Regions from separate parts of the Homo sapiens genome. Here region 2 is linked to region 1. A link means that fine-mapping ties the variant in region 1 to the expression of a gene that starts in the linked region. Tissue or cell type: fibroblasts. Region 1 holds a variant in brackets; the other region holds the start of a gene. All regions are shown on one strand. Distances are between the middles of the regions.

Region 1 (8,108 bases):
AAGACTTATGAAGAAACAAATTGTAAGAAATGGTGAACAGCCAGATGTGAAAGAGAAATTACAAAGGCTTTTGGCATGCTGTTTCTCACCGGTCCCCTTCCAAGCTAGTCTGCATCATGACAAGGAAAACCTTGAGAAAGGGCAGGGGATAGTAGTATGAGTAGCATCAAATTACTCACATAGGTCTCAGGTGACATCGTTTTGCCTCCTTTTATCCCTTCAATTTTATTTATAAAATCAGAATTTTCCATGGTGTGATGGTTAATAATGTGTCAACTTGATTGGATTGAAGGATACAGAGTATTGTTCCTGGGTGTGTCTGTGAGGGTGTTGCCAAAGGAGATTAACATTTCAGTCAGTGGACTGGGAGACGCAGACTCATCCTCAATGTGGGTGGGCACCATCCAATCACCTGCCAGCGTGGGCAGAATAAAGCAGGCAGAAGAAGGTGGAATGAGCAGACCTGCTGAGTTTTCTGGCCTTCATCTTTCTCCCATGCTGGATGCTTCCTGCCCTCAAACATCAGGCCCCAAATTCTTCAGCTTTTGGACTCTTGGACATACATCAGTGGATCGCCAGGGATTCTCCGGCCTTCGGCCACAGGCTGAAGGCTGCGCTGTCGGCTTCCCTACTTTTGAGGTTTTGGGACTCAGACTGGCTTCCTTGCTCTTCAGCTTGCAGATGGCCTGCTGTGGGACTTCACCTGGTGACCGTGTGAGTCAATTCTCCTTAATAAAGTCCGTTTCGTATATTCATCTATCCTATTAGTTCTGTCCCTCTAGAGAACTCTAATACATATGGGATTAGTACAAGAGGTAAGTTATCTTGCCTCTTCCTCAAGCTCTCCCTTGAACCCTTGCAAAAAGAAAATTCCCCACATTGTTTTCCTAAATATTACAACTCTACGTCCAGAGGATGATTGTTTTCCTGAGTACTTGTTAGTACTTCTACTCTTCATTCTTTTTAGTAATTCTGATCAGGACCTTTTATTTTCTATTATAATGGGCCAATGTGATGGTTAGTTTTATGTGACATCTTGACTGAGCTGAGGGATGCCTAGTTAGCTGGTAACACATTATTTGTGTTTGTATCTGTGAGGGTGTTTCTGGAAGAGATTAGGATTTTAATTTATAGGTTGAGTAAAGAAGATCTGCACTCACTTATGTGAATGGACATCATCCAATCCTATGAGAGCCTGAATAGAATAAAAAGGTGGAGGAAGGGTGCATTTGCTTCTCATTTGAGCTGGGACAGCCATATATACTCCCCTGCCCTCAGATACTGGTGCTGGGTTCTAGAGCCTTTGAGCTCTGATCTGGACCTACACTGTTGGCTCCCGTGGTTCTCAGGCCTTTGGACTTGGACTGAGTTATATCACCAGCTTTCTCCCGCTGGTTTTCCAGCTTGCAGAGGGCAGATTATGGGACTTCCAGGCCTCCGTAATTGTGTAAGTCAATTCCTGTAATAAATCTCCTGTTTTATAAATATATCTATATAGATATCTATATAGTGTTTCAGGCCACTATTCTTTACTATATATTAATCACTATTCTAAGTGATTTACATATTTTATGATCACATCTACACTCTGGGGTAGTTGACCAGTCAGGGTTCAGTGTAGGAAAAAGAAATTGTTCTAGGAATTTCCAGTATATAGGAATTTAATATACAGAACTATGTGTTTATAAATTCATTAAAATGGCTGGAAAAGCAGAAACAGGGGGCTGCTTCTGGAGTTTTGGTGTTAAGCTAATGCTCTAATAGCTGTGACCCAGAAGAAACTGTTACTGCAACCACTGCTGTGGCTGCCACAGCTGCCCTGTGCTAAGAAGACACTGCCCCTTGCATCTAGAGAGTGCAGCATTCATCTAACCCATGCAAATCCTGTGTCTGTCAGAACCTGCGTGTCAACTCTCCCTGCTGCAGGAAGCTCATCTCTGCCTCCCTTTCAAATTTCACGTGTGTGTATCTAGCTGGCAGAGTCTATTTCATAGCCAGAACCCTATCTATAAAGGAGTCTGGAAAATGTACTTGTTCGTTTTCCAACTTCTTCAAATAGGAGGGTTGAGAGAGCAACAGCTCATCTTCAGATGGAGGTTGAGAGAGCAACAGCTGCCACAGATTTCAAGCAGAGTTGGAAAGAACTGCAAATTTTTTATTGATTTCATTTGTTCTAAATAGACAAATTAATATCATGTGGAGTTGCTTATCTGGATATTTTCTTGTGATATATTTATAGTTTTAGTGAACGCTTATTTTTAAAGTTTATATTTCAAAATATGTATGAATAGGATATTTTAAAGAACAAAATAGTGGTGATGACTCCCATTAAGAAATACTATTGGCTGTGCACGGTGGCTCATGCCTGTAATCCCAGAACTCTGGGAGGCTGAGGGGGGAGGACAGCTTGAGGCCAGTTCAACTAACCTGGGCAACATAGCACAACAACAATTTAATTTAAATTAAAAAATTTTAAAAAAATTTTAAATTTTAAAAATTTAAAAAATTTTTAAAAATACTATTCCTGCCAGGCATGGTGGGTCACGCCTATAATCCCAGCACTTTGGGAGGCTGAGGAGGGCAGATCGCCTGAGGCCAGGAGTTCAAGACCAGCCTGCCCAACATGGCAAAACCCCATCTCCATTAAAAATACAAAAAAATTAGCCAGGCGTGATGTGGTGGTACACACCTGTGGTCCCAGCTGCTTGGGAAGCTGAGGCCAGGAGAATCACTTGAACCTGGGAGGTAGAGGTTGCAGTGAGCTGAAATCGCACCACTGCACTCTAGCCTGGGCAACAGAGCAAGACTCTGTCTCAAAAAGAATAAAAATAAAATACTATTCCTCTTTCCATATATTGATATCTTAATTATGTTGAACTTTTAGGCTTAAGCTCAAACCTGGCCATTTTCGTGATCAGTTTTGAAATGTTATACACAGAAGCCATTTAAAATGTATATTAATATGCAGCCCTACAATATTTACTCAAGTCCACATTATTCACTCTTACCTGAGCTGTAGTATAGTATTGATGGCTCATCATACTCATCTCTGCCTAGCAAACTTTTATATTCTACTTGCAAAGTTAAAATTGTTTTTGTGGATTAAAAAATGAGGAAAGGAGATAAAATGGGTGTCCCCTGAGGTCTCAGTAAATAATTTCTTACGGCTATAAGACCTATACTGACACTCCCCTAAGCCCTCCTTAGGCCTTAGGCACAGCCTTCTTTGTGAGCCTCATATACAGTATAAGTTCAACAAATGTTGAATGAATACACGAAAGAATGCATTATATGTAAACCTGAATTTTCTATTTAACTTTATCCTGTGCTGTTTATTCCACTTAAGATTATAAACATCTTGAAAATAGGGATAGCTTTTTTTTTTTTCTTTTGGAGACGGAATCTCACTCTGTCACCTAGGCTGGAGTGCAGTGGCACGATCTTGGCTCACTGCAACCTCCACGTCCCTGGTTCAAGCAATTCTCTTGCCTCAGCCTCCTGAGTAGCTGGGATTATAGGCACTGCCACCACACCAAGGTAATGTTTTGTACTTTTAACAGAGACAGGGTTTCACCATGTTGGCCAGGCCAGGATGGTCTTGAACTCCTCAGGTGATCCGCCTGCCTCAGCCTCCCAAAGTGCTGGATTACAGGCGTGAGCCACCACACTCAGCTGGAATAGCATCTTATATGCCTTTATACCCCTCCTTTCCACCTCCTAATATAATCTGAGAACACAGGAAGTGATCAATATTTACTGAACCGAATCAATAGTTTTGAAATAAAGTATTCTTTTATCAATTATGAACTGGTAATGTTTATATTTTAAAACTACTTTATTAAATAAAAAATTTTAAACAGAGAAACATTTAAAGAACAATTCAGCAATATTTCAACCAGCTAAAGAGAACCAACATTTTTTTTTTTTTTGAGACATAGTCTCTCT[C/A]TATTGCCCAGGCTAGAGTGCAGTGGTGTGATCTCAGCTCACTGCAGCCTCTGCCATCTGGTTTCAAGCGATTCTCCTGCCTCAGCCTCCCGAGTAACTGGGATTACTGGCGCCTGCCACCACGCCTGGCTAATTTTTCTATTTTTAGTAGAGACGGGGTTTCACCATCTTGGCCAGGCTGGTCTTGAACTCCTGACCTCGTGATCCACCGGCCTTGGCCTCCCAAAGTGCTGGGATTACGGGTATGAGCCACTGCGCCTGGCCTGTTTTTTTATTTTTTAGAGACAGGGTCTTGCTCTGTCTCCTAGGCTAGAGTGCAGTGGTGCCATCATACCTTACTGTAACCTCGAACTCCTAGGCCCAAGTGATCCTCCTTCCTCAGCCTCCTGAGTAGCTAGTACTTGCAGGCACTGCCATAGCCAACTTTTTTATTTTTTGTAGAAATGGAGTCTTGCTAAGTTGCTCAGTCTGGTCTTGAACTCCTGGCCTCAAGCAATCCTCCTGCCTCGTGCAGGATTACAGGTGTAAGCCACAGCACTCAACCAACATTTTGGTTGTTATTTGTTTTTTGCCCCTATGCCGATGTTCTGGGTTTAAAAATATAATCATTGTGCATACATTTTTGTGTCCTGCTTGTTTTTCACTTATTATAATTTTCTGTGTTGTTATGAGTTTTTATTTTTAAATCTGAATAATGGTGCATGCCTGCCACATAGTGGACATTCAATAAATTAATAAATTAATACTTTATTCATTTATTCATAAACATTAAGAATTACATTTTTAAAATATTTACTATTTTGATAGATGAGAAATGGAAACTTCTTTGATTTTTTAAAAAATTAAGATCACTTTTATTTATCGAAGAGCAAAATAGTAAATTAACAAAACCTTAGCTGATAGAGAAATAACACCGGAAGTCTTGTGCATGTGATTATCAACTAAGTAACTGGTTGAAGTCAGGATATAAATCACTGGATAATTTTTTGTGGAAAGACAGAATAAATTGATGAGGCCCTTAATAAAGAAATGGAAATGAAACCTTGCCCTTTGGAGAAAGAGCACTCTGTAATTCCTATAGCCACCACTCTTCGTCAAAGAGAAACAGGGTTGTGACAATGGTCCCATGAGCCTGGACCTAGGACCCTCTTCAGCTTGTCTCTTGCTTGACTTTGGAGAGCAGACTGGGCATGACACAGAGGCCAGAGACTAATTTGACAATGGGAAGGTTAAAAACTTCATATCCTGGGCCCACTCTTTGATCTTGAGCCATTAGTTCCACAGTTTCTCTTGGCCTTTCATGTCTAAAAAAATGTCCAAGTATTACTGTTACCACCTTGAGAGACGTGGCTGCTGCCATCAGTAGGTGAAAGGTTGTCTTGCTGCCTGAGATGGAAAGTCCCTAGCCAACACCTTATTTTCTGGCTGTATAAGACAGCGACCCAAAAAGCAAAGGGTTGGGAGGAGGACAGGCAGTCCAGCAGGTGACCATTTAGAACTTCGTGCTATAAATGGTTTTGGATTTCCAAAGATGAAACGAGTCTCCCCAGCACAGGGCAGTTGCAGGTCACACCCCCAGGGCCTGACTGGTTTTATCAATCTGGCTGTTTGGGGTCAGTGCAAAGGACATCCTCACCACCTGGATTGCACATATACACAGATGGTGATGATTCTGATATACAGGAAATTGGCGTGAAACTACAGTCTCGCTTTTGCATAGCAACCTTTCACTTTTGGATCTGAGGGGCAAGATGCTTGCTATCCGCTGGACCAATCACTCATGCCATTTACGCCACAGCAGTGCAGAAATGACTGGATGGAGTCCCACATCGCCTTGGTGCTGTTGTCCCAGTGGTAATGGTAGATGCTGTCCGTCAGGCCCTCAGCTACCTATACATTCAGCTTCCGTTCGTAAACAAAGTGCAGGATGGCCAAGATCACCTCAGCAAGGAGGATAACCGGCAGCAGAATGAACAAGGACATAAGCAGGCACCTGTTTTTCTTGACAGAACCTATGCAGCCCAGGAAGGCAACCACCGTGATAATGGAGACCACGATGACAAGCACATTGCCCGGCATGAGGGAGGGGAGCTTATGGAAGAGCACTCCCAAACTGTTGTGGATCAGCGGGTACATCCCCATAACTGCAGCAGCCACAGAACCAAAAGAGCAAGTTGGGCTGTGCGTGGTAGCTCACGCCTGTAATCCCAGGACTTTGGGAGGCTGAGGCGGGAGGATCACTTGAGCCCAGGAGTTCAAGACCAGCCTGGGCAACATAGTGAGACCCTGACTTTACAAAAAAAATTTTAGAAATTAGCCAGGTGTGGTGGTGCATGTGTGTGCCTATGGTCCCAGCTACTCAGGAAGCTGAGGTGGGAGGATTGTTTGAGCTCAGAAGGTGAAGGCTGCAGTCAGCTATGATGGAGCCACTGCACTCCAGCCTGGGAGATAGAGCAAGATCCTGTCTCAAAAAAAAAAAAAAGAAAGAAAGAGAGAAAGTGAGAGAGAGTAAGAAAGAAAGAAAGAAAAGAAAGAAAGACAGGACATACTTCCATAATTTCAAGCTACTTGTGCCCATGCTGGGATATTCTGGTCCTTTTGCAGGCACTAGTCCTCAGCCCTTCAGACAGAATTTGTGATTATCCTTCAGATGGCCAAAACAAGGCTGGTAACATTCATGTCTAGAGTTATTTCAAAACTCCTTTGATGTTTGAAACTAGCATTACTACTTTACTATTGAGGATAATTTTTTAATATGTTTATTGACCAACTGTATTTTCTTTTTTGCGAATTTTTCTTTTCAAATATTTTGTCCATTTATCTATTGGAAACTTGATTTTAATAAACTCATCATTAAAATTTATTAATAGGACTTTTATGATTTTTGTTTTTAAAATAAATGTTGGGCTGGGCACAGTGGCTTATGCCTGTAATCCTAGCACTTTGGGAGGCCAAGGTGGGTGGACTGCTTGAGCTCAGGAGTTCCAGACCAGCCTGGGCAACATGAAACACCATCTCTACAAAAAATACAAAAATTAGCTGGGTGTGGTGGCATGCACCTGTATTCCCAGCTACCTGGAGGCTGACATGCCAGGATTGCTTGAGTCTGGGAGGTCAAGGCTGCAGTGAGTCACGACTGCACCACTGTACTCCAGCCTGGATGACACAGAGAGAATCTGTCTCAAGAAAATAAAATAAAAATAAAAAATAAGTGTTGTCAAACTAAGAAACAATTGGCAAAATGAAAGTAAGTCTTTGTAATCACAGAAAGAAAAGATCAAGCAGAGATAAATGTTAGTTCAAATACTAAATGATGCCATCTAGTGGAAAATTTATTTTGACTCATTTCTTTGGATTGCAGGTTCACAAATTTCAATGCCCCCAAATTTGGAATTGACAGGCTCTGTTAAAATACATAGTCCAGCCCCTCTTCTGCCTAGAGATTTCTAACTTCATGTGTGTGATAATCCAAGAATTGTGTTTCAATAGTATCCATATTGGAAATTAGAAAAATTCCATTTCAGTTAAAAAGAGTGTCCCAGAAGTACCTTGTGCTTTCCCTTTCCATCAGAATGTTTACTAGTTTCACCATAATAAATAATTTTATTGCTAAACATTCTTTAAATGTGTTAGCCCCTGTGCTGTTTTACTTGAATTGTTTTATTTAGTCTGTTCAAACACTGTAAGTTACATACTATTATTATTGTATTTCACAAGTGAGAAGGTTGAGGGTGAGAACTTAAGTAGCTTCTCCAAGATCACACAGCTATATTGTATCTGAGCCCAGAAACCATCAGGTTATTGTGCACAGGCCTATGTGACACGAAAGGTCAGTCATGTGAATAGTGAAAAGGGACTAACTTTTAAAAGACCAGTTCCAGTCCCATGATCCTATCCTATCATCTACATTTAGCTTAGTATACTACAGGCAGAAATGAATTGTATTTCTTCATTACTAAGGGCTATTTAGGGACATATTGCTTTGATATGTTGCAACTTAATACACACATGGTGATAGTCATACATTCATATGTTCCTTAAATATTGGTTGTTGATTTCTGGTGTTATAAATTTGAGGATGTTTTCAATACTTTGCTGTTACTCTCTATTCTTCCCCTAAATAAAGTAAACTGAACTGCCTCAAACCCTCTATGTGGAGGCAA
Region 2 (8,108 bases), 150 kb after region 1:
TCCTCCCTTCTTCCCTCACTACACTGTAGTCCTTCAGGTTAGGAACTGTGTTTGTCATAGTCTTTTTTTTTTTTTTTTTTTTTTTTTTTTTTGAGACTGAGTCTCCCTCTGTTGCCCAGGCTGGAGTGCAGTGGCGCTGTCCCAGCACCACTGCAACCTCTGCCTCCCAGGTTCAAGCGATTCTCCCGCTTCAGCCTCCTGAGTAGTTGGGATTGCGGGTGCCTGACACCATGCCCGGCTAATTTTCTTGTGTCTTTTTTGTAGAGAGGGGCTTTCGCCATGTTGACCAGGCTGGTCTCAAATTCCTGACCTCAAGTGATCTGCCCACCTTAGCCTTCCAAAGTGTTGGGATTACAGACATGAACCACTGCAGCTGGCCTGTCATAGTCGTCTTTGTATCCTGGCATCTTGCACAGTGCCTGGCACATGGTACTATATATATTGAATAAATGAAGGAGTGGGTTGAAACACTTACTTAGGTGTGAAACTTATTTCCTTGAATTCTCCAATCCCCAGCTGCCCTTCAGAACCAGCTCCCCATGCGAAGACCCTTCCTTTGTGGCACACAGCCAGGGAGTGCTCCTTCCCGCAGCTCACGAGATCAACAATTAGGGTTTCCAATGCCTGAATTGGTTCTTTGGGAAACAAAACAAAACACCCCCCAACCACCACTGCAGATTATTAATTTAACACAAGTTTAAGACAGCACTTTTCTTCAAAAAGAAGGATCATCCAGATTTCTTGTCTCCTCCAATGGTCTTTTGAATCAAGACCTTAAGTCCATTCTAAATGTCTGAAGGAAGTAAATTCAATGTATGTTACCCTGTCTTTATAGGATACAGCTCTGTTAAAATAATCAACAGGGAGACTATCAGGTTGAGATGGCTCCAGCACCTTGGGTTCCTACCTAAGCAAACCAAAACCCAACTCAGAGTGATTGATCATAGCCTAGGAAAATGAAACTTAAGGTTAACCAATCAGAAACCACCAACTAACATCTAACTAGAGACTTTACCAACCAGAAACTGCTGACTACTTCAAACAAGGGACTTTCCACTTTAACCAATCAAGTATTTTCTTTGTCTTGCTTCCTGGAACACGTTATCAAAGGTTCCCCCTGGCATCTCCTTGCACCTCCCTTAGTGGAGCCCAACTGCTTGAGGTCTGGTGCTGCTCAATTCATGAACTGCTGAATGTTCAAATTGACTCTTAAAAACATTCAATTACCCAAGTCTATCTTTTAATGGCTGTTATTTAAAGGAGTAGGCATCACGGAGGGGGTAACTTCTAGGGACTATGACACATGACCAAATGTTTCTCTAGCAAAACCTAGCAAAATAAAGAGACCCAGAAAAAAGTTGGGATCTCCTCCATTTTGCTATTCTGTCTTCCCACCCTAAACACTGAAAGCAGTGAATCCCTTGCTCAGAAGGAAATTGGAAGGGAGCCTACCTCATGAGTGTGAGAGGCAGATGCTGGATCCTCTTACAATGAAAAGTGAAAAATATGCCCCTATGGAGGCCCTAAATATGCCCACAAATGAAAACCGGATCACATTTCCCTACAAGCCAACCTAAACTGCTTTCCCAAGGTGTCTGTCTCTGAATTATTAGAGGTTTGGAGTTGAGAACATCATACCAGTAAAGTTTTTGCAACATTTAAGATTTTGTTTTTCCTTTTATCTTTGTAATCTTATCTTTTTCAACTATTTACTGTCAATTTATGCAAGGTTAAAATTTCCCAAAGATTCATGCACTCACAAAGATAGAAATTGGTACCATTTTTCTAGAGAACAATTTGGGGTTAAGTATCATGTTGCCCTTCATTTCCAAATGAGGGTGATAAGACCTGAAAACATGCTACTTTAAGAATTTGAGCTGAAGGCAATTGAGAATCAACAGATGCAGGAAGAGGTCTCTGCTCTCTTCTTATCTACCTAAAAGTAGGTCATAAATATCCTTTTGTGAGAAGCTCCCATCTCTGGCACCAAGAAAAGGGTCAGCCGGGCGCAGTGGCTCATAACTGTAATCCCAGCACTTTGGGAGGCCGAGGCGGGTGGATCACGAGGTCAGGAGTTTGAGACCAGCCTGACCAACATAGTGAAACCCCGTCTCTACTAAAAATATAAAAATTAGCTGGGCATGGTGGTGAGTGCCTGTAATCCCTGCTACTTGGGAGGCTGAGGCAGAAGAACCGTTTGAACTGGGGAGGCGGAGGTTGCAGTGAGCCGAGATAGTGCCATTGCACTACAGCCTGGTGACAGGGCAAAACCCCATCTCAAAAAAAAAAAAAAAAAAAAAAGAAGAGAAGGGTCACCTAAGATGAAGACTTGGCACTGAGGTGAGCCTGCATAAACAAGTCAATTAAAATAACCCTTATCTTCCATTAGATTTTCCCATATATTTTCTAGTCACTTTCCCTGAGTTCATCATCCTTTAAAGTCCAAACCCCCTTTTCTTTGTTAAACATGGTACACAAGCTCCTAAGTCGAAGCACTTGAGTTTCACTTCTATTCTGTAAATTCCCACGCATGTAAATTCCCCTATATGTAAAAGATTAATAAAATTGTATGCTTTTTCTCCTGTCAATCTGTCTTTTGTCAGTTAAGTTTGCAGGACCCAGCCGCTGAACCTAAGAGGGTAGAGGAAAAATTTTCCTCCTCCACACACCTTTTGAAACTATTCTCAGCAGGTCATCAAAAATGTAGTCAAATATTTGCTTACGAGAATATCAATCAGTATTATTTATAAAAGCCCCTAGTGGGAAACAATCTAATTTCCACAAAAAGAGAATAATTATGGTACTCTCAGAGTTTAGAATGTTATGCAGCAATTTAAAACATATTTTCAAAACATACAAAATGAAAGGGTAATATGTTCATAAGATTATGCTTGATGAAAACACAATGTACAGAGTTGCATAAATACTGCATATACAAATCTATAATGACATGATTTTTATAAAGATTAAATATGTACATAGAAAAAAGTAGACAAGGAGAAAATGCATCAAAATGTTAGGAGTTATCTTTGGGTGTTGGAGCTACGGTGATTGCTTTCTCGTATTTCTACAATAATCCATAACGATTATTGTATTATCTCACATATATAATATATATATTTATTATTATTATGTTTTTTGAGACAGAGTCTTGCTCTGTTGCCAGGCTGGAGTGCAGTGTCGCGATTTCGGCTCACTGCAACCTCTGCCTCCCGGGTTCAAGCGATTCCCCTGCCTCAGCCTCCCAAGTAGCTGGGACTACAGGCGCCCGCCACCACGCCCAGTTTATTTTTTGTATTTTAGTAGAGATGGGGTTTCATCATATTGGCCAGGGTGGTCTCGATTTCCTGACCTCGTGCTCCGCCCGCCTCGGCCTCCCAAAGTGCTGGGATCACAGGCGTAAGCCACCGCGTCCGGCCTATTATGTGTATATATATATATTTATATATTATATATATATATTTATATATTATATATATATATTTATATATTATATATATATTTATATTATATATATATTTATATATTATATATATATTTATATATTATATATATATTTATATATTATATATTTATATATTATATATATTTATATATTATATATTTATATATTATATATATTTATATATTATATATTTATATATTATATATATATTTATATTATATATATATTTATATATTATATATATATTTATATATTATATATATTTATATATTATATATATTTATATATTATATATATTTATATATTATATATATATTTATATATTATATATATTTATATATTATATATATTTATATATTATATATATATTTATATATTATATATATTTATATATTATATATATTTATATATTATATATATATTTATATATTATATATATTTATATATTATATATATTTATATATTATATATATATTTATATATTATATATATTTATATATTATATATATTTATATATTATATATATATTTATATATTATATATATTTATATGCTATATATATATTTATATATTATATATATTTATATGTTATATATATATTTATATATTATATATATTTATATGTTATATATATATTTATATATTATATATATTTATATGTTATATATTTATATATTTATATATTATATATATTTATATATTATATATTTATATATTATATATTTGTATATATTTATATATTATATATATTTATATATTTTATATATATATTTTTATATATATATATTTTTTAATGCCCCAGTGTATTTCTAAGGGAGATACAGGTGTCTGACCCACAAACCACGTTTGTAAGGTCAGGCTGCCTTCTCCAGGTAGAACCGCGCAGGCGAGGATTTATCTGCAAGGCAAGCCGGAGGGACCACATCTCTTTCCAGAGCAGCGCTGACCAGGTTAGTTTCGGCTCTCAGTTTCGCTTTGAACTTGAATTGGAAACCGAAACAAATCCGAGGGGCGTTGGGAAAACGAAACTGAGGAAGTTGCTCTTCGGTAGCACAGGGCACCATTTTCCTGGTTCCTGTGGCTCTTCGGGCCCCGAGGAATCCAAGGCTCCCAGCACCCCTCCCTGCCTGGCCCGCGGCGCCCAGCATCTGAGCCGCTCCCTGCACCTGGGCCCCCGCGCCCCTCACCCGGGTCCCAGCGCTCCGCACCCGGTTCCCTGCGCCCGGTACCCAAGCCCCCGCGCCCATGTACTGGGGTCCTCACACCCTGCACCTGGGGCCCCCCGCTCACCTGGCAGCTCCCCGCGCTGCGCGCCCCTGCGGCCCAGCTGACCCCTGCTGTTGTCTCCGCACGAGAGGACCCTGTGGTTGGTCAGCAGCAGCAGAGAGTGGCGCTCCCCGCTGGCCGCCTGCAGTAGCTCAGCCCCGGGGCTGCCCGCCGTCCTCCGGCGCTGCAGCTCCCTGGAGTCGGCGCCCCAACAGAAGTACATCCCGCTTCTGCGCCCTGTCGCCTGCTCCGGATTCCGTCGGTCCCGCTGCGACAGGCTCCCGAACGCTGGTGACTGGGTGCGCGATGATTTCCTGAATATCAAGAGACTCACCCTGTCTTCAACCCGCCCCAGGGGCGCAGCCCTGGCCCCATGTCAACTCTCGCTGCCTGAACTTCAAGTGCTGAAGAGCAGAGAGGGCGTCCCAGGGAATAAAACTGAGTTTACATCCTAAGCCATTTATGAGTCGTGAATGCCACTTTGGGCAAGTTACCTAATGATTCCGTGCTTCAGCTATCATATCTACGAAATATGGACTGCAATTCAGCAAATCTAATATGTCGGGATAATTTAATAGGCACATAAAGTGTTAGAATAATACCTAGAGTGGTTAATAAAGCATCTGAGTGCCCACCTCATTCCAGACCTTTTTTGGCATTGAAAATATGTTTGTTTTTTGTTTGTTTGTTTGTTTGTTTGTTTGAGATGGAGTGTCGCTCTGCTGCTCAGGCTGGAGTGCAGTGGCACCATCTCGGCTCACTGCAACCTCCACCTCACGGGTTCAAGCTGATTCTCTTGCCTCGGCCTCCCGAGTAGGTGGGATTACAGGCATGCGCCACGACGCCCGACTTAATTTTTGTATTTTTAGTAAAGATGGGGTTTCACCATGTTGGCCAGGCTGGTCTCGAACTCCTGACCTCAAGTGATCCACCCCTCAGCTTTCCAAAGTGCAGGGATTACAGGCGTGAGCCTCTGGGCCCCGCCTGAAAATACAATTAGTGAAAGACAAGATCCTCTTGATGCGTTTACATTCTCCTGAGGGAAAGAGAACATAAACAGATAAACACATAGTGTAATATCAAGGGGCAACGAAAAATACAACAGGAACCAGAGGGTGGAGGCGGAAGGCACTGGTATTTGAGATGATATTAGGGAAGATCTCTCTGATGAAGTGATATTTGTGCAGAGAGCTGAGGGGACATGGGAAATGAGGGAATGAGTCGTGATCACACCTGAGGGCAGAGGATGAAAAGAAGCAGTTGGAAGGTTTTGAATAGAGAAGAGCCATGATCTGACTTCAGTTTTTAAAGATTCATCTGGCTGCTGTGTGAAAAATAATAGGACAAAAATGGAAGCAGAAAGCCAGTTAGCAGAGACTACTTCAGAGTTCAGGTCAGGTGATATCCTAGAAGGGAAGAGAGGAGAAGTTATTAGATTCAAGACATGTTTTGAAAGTAAGAGTCCACAGATTTGATGATGGATTAGAAATTGGGGGGAAAGAAGAAAAGGGATTAGGGATTACTCCAGGGTTGGCTTTAGGGGTTACTCCAAGGTAAACTCTACTGGACTGGGAAACCCTGAGGAAGGTGCAGGTTTAAGCTATGTGTGTCTGGAATACAGATTGGTAATGATAACTGTAAGATGCTTGTTAATCAAGAAGGCAATAGGATAAACTGTTTTGGAGTTGTAGAGAGAAGCTTGGGTGTAGTCAGAAAATTGGGAGCCATCAGTGTAGAGGTGATGCTTAAAGCCAGATGGCTGAATGAGAACACCCAGGGGGTGAATGTGGTGACAGTATAGCAGAGGCTAGAGGACTGATCATAGGAGGAAAACCAGGAGGAGGAGTTATAGACAGAGCAAGTAACGAATAAAGGAAGGATCAACTCTGTCAATTTCTTGTGGAGCAAGGTAAGGATTGAGCACTGATTTTTATTTATTTATTTGTTTGTTTGTTTGAGATAGAGTTTCCGCTCTTGATGCCCAGGCTGGAGTGCAATGGCGTGATCTCAACTCACAGCAACCTCCGCCTCCCAGGTTCAAGCAATCCTCCCGCCTTAGCCTCCCAAGTAGCGGGACTACAGGCACGTGCCACTACGCCCAGCTAACTTTTGTATTTTTTGAAGAGATGGGGTTTCATCATGTTGCCCAGGCTGGTCTTGAACTCCTGACCTCAGATGATCTGCCTACCTCAGCCTTCCAAAGTGCTGTGATTATAGGCCACCATGTCCCGCTGAGCACTGGTTTTTAGATTTGGTAACTTTGATAATGTTAGCCATCATCAGCATTATTGATTTTTTTTTAAAAGAAACTATTACAGAACCTATTTATGTAATTTCAATTCACCACTCTTCATGACCATGTTTCAAGTTCTTTAAAGAGAAGAACAAATGTTCTTTATTTTTCTACCTCAAGAGTACCTGGAACTTGGTAGATGCTAATAAGGGTATGTCGGACAATTGGATTGATGAGTAGTGAGTCAGTGGATAGTATTAGTATTTCTGGTTCTGTTTTGCTGTATACCAAATATAACCTTTTTCTGAATAGTAATTTCTTAATGTTTATTTCTTTTCTCAAGCACAAAATGTAGGAGTTTGGTATTATTACCATAAGATACTGAGCCCTCAAATTAAGTTATTTCTTTAAAAAAAAATTTTTTTTTGAGACAGAGTCTCGCTTTGCCACCCAGGCTGGAGTGTAGTGGCACGATCTCAGCTCACTGCAACCTCCACCTCCCCGATTCAAGCGATTCTCCTGCCTCAGCCTCCTGAACAGCTCAGATTACAGGCGGGCACTATCACACCTGGCTAATTTTTGTATTTTTCGTAGAGATAGGGTTTCACCATGTTGGCCAGGCTGATCTCGAACTTCTAACCTCAAGTGATCCGCCTGCCTCAGCCTCCCAAAGTGCTGGGATTACAGGCGTGAGCCACCACTCTTGGCCTAAAAAATCTTTTATTGATACATAATAGATGCACATGTTTTGGGGGTACATATGATAATTTGACACATTATCAAATTGGGATATCTATCGCCTTAAATAATTTATCTTGGGCTAGGCACAGTGGCTCATGCCTATAATCCTAGCACTTTAGGAGGCCGAGATGGGAGGATCGCTTGAGCTCAGGAGTTGGAGACCAGCCTGGGCAACATGGTGAAACCCCATCTTTACAAAAAATAGCTGGGTGCAGTGGCACATACCTGTAGTCCCAGCTACGTGGGAGGCTGAGGTGGGAGGATTGCTTGAGCCCGGAGCCTGGGAGGTGGAAGGTGCAGTGAGCCCAGATCGTGCCACTGCACTCCAGCCTGGGCGACAGAGCCAGACCCTATCTCAAAAAAAAAAAAAAAAAAAAAAGGAACATTCAAATTATTATTGGCTAGTGGTTTTGAAATGTACCT

The links. PIP is the estimated chance that this variant, and not a neighbour inherited with it, causes the effect.
Region 2: it holds the start of HERC6, and the variant in region 1 is fine-mapped to the expression of HERC6 in fibroblasts (GTEx, PIP above 0.99).

Annotation. Positions count from the first base shown.
Region 1 is chr4:88,525,575-88,533,682 of GRCh38, reverse strand. It overlaps a transcript of HERC3 not described here and the pseudogene LOC100129137. Among named protein-coding and RNA genes, the nearest start is that of PIGY-DT, 5.8 kb to the right of the region's middle. The variant C/A (reference allele first, on the strand shown) is at 3,946.
Region 2 is chr4:88,375,748-88,383,855 of GRCh38, reverse strand. It overlaps HERC6 (HECT and RLD domain containing E3 ubiquitin protein ligase family member 6), which reads right to left and starts at 5,004. Exons shown (of 23, transcript NM_017912.4): 1 at 4,736-5,004; 2 at 476-635. The coding sequence starts at 4,934. RefSeq lists enhancers at 876-1,175, 4,252-4,581 and a silencer at 4,592-4,781.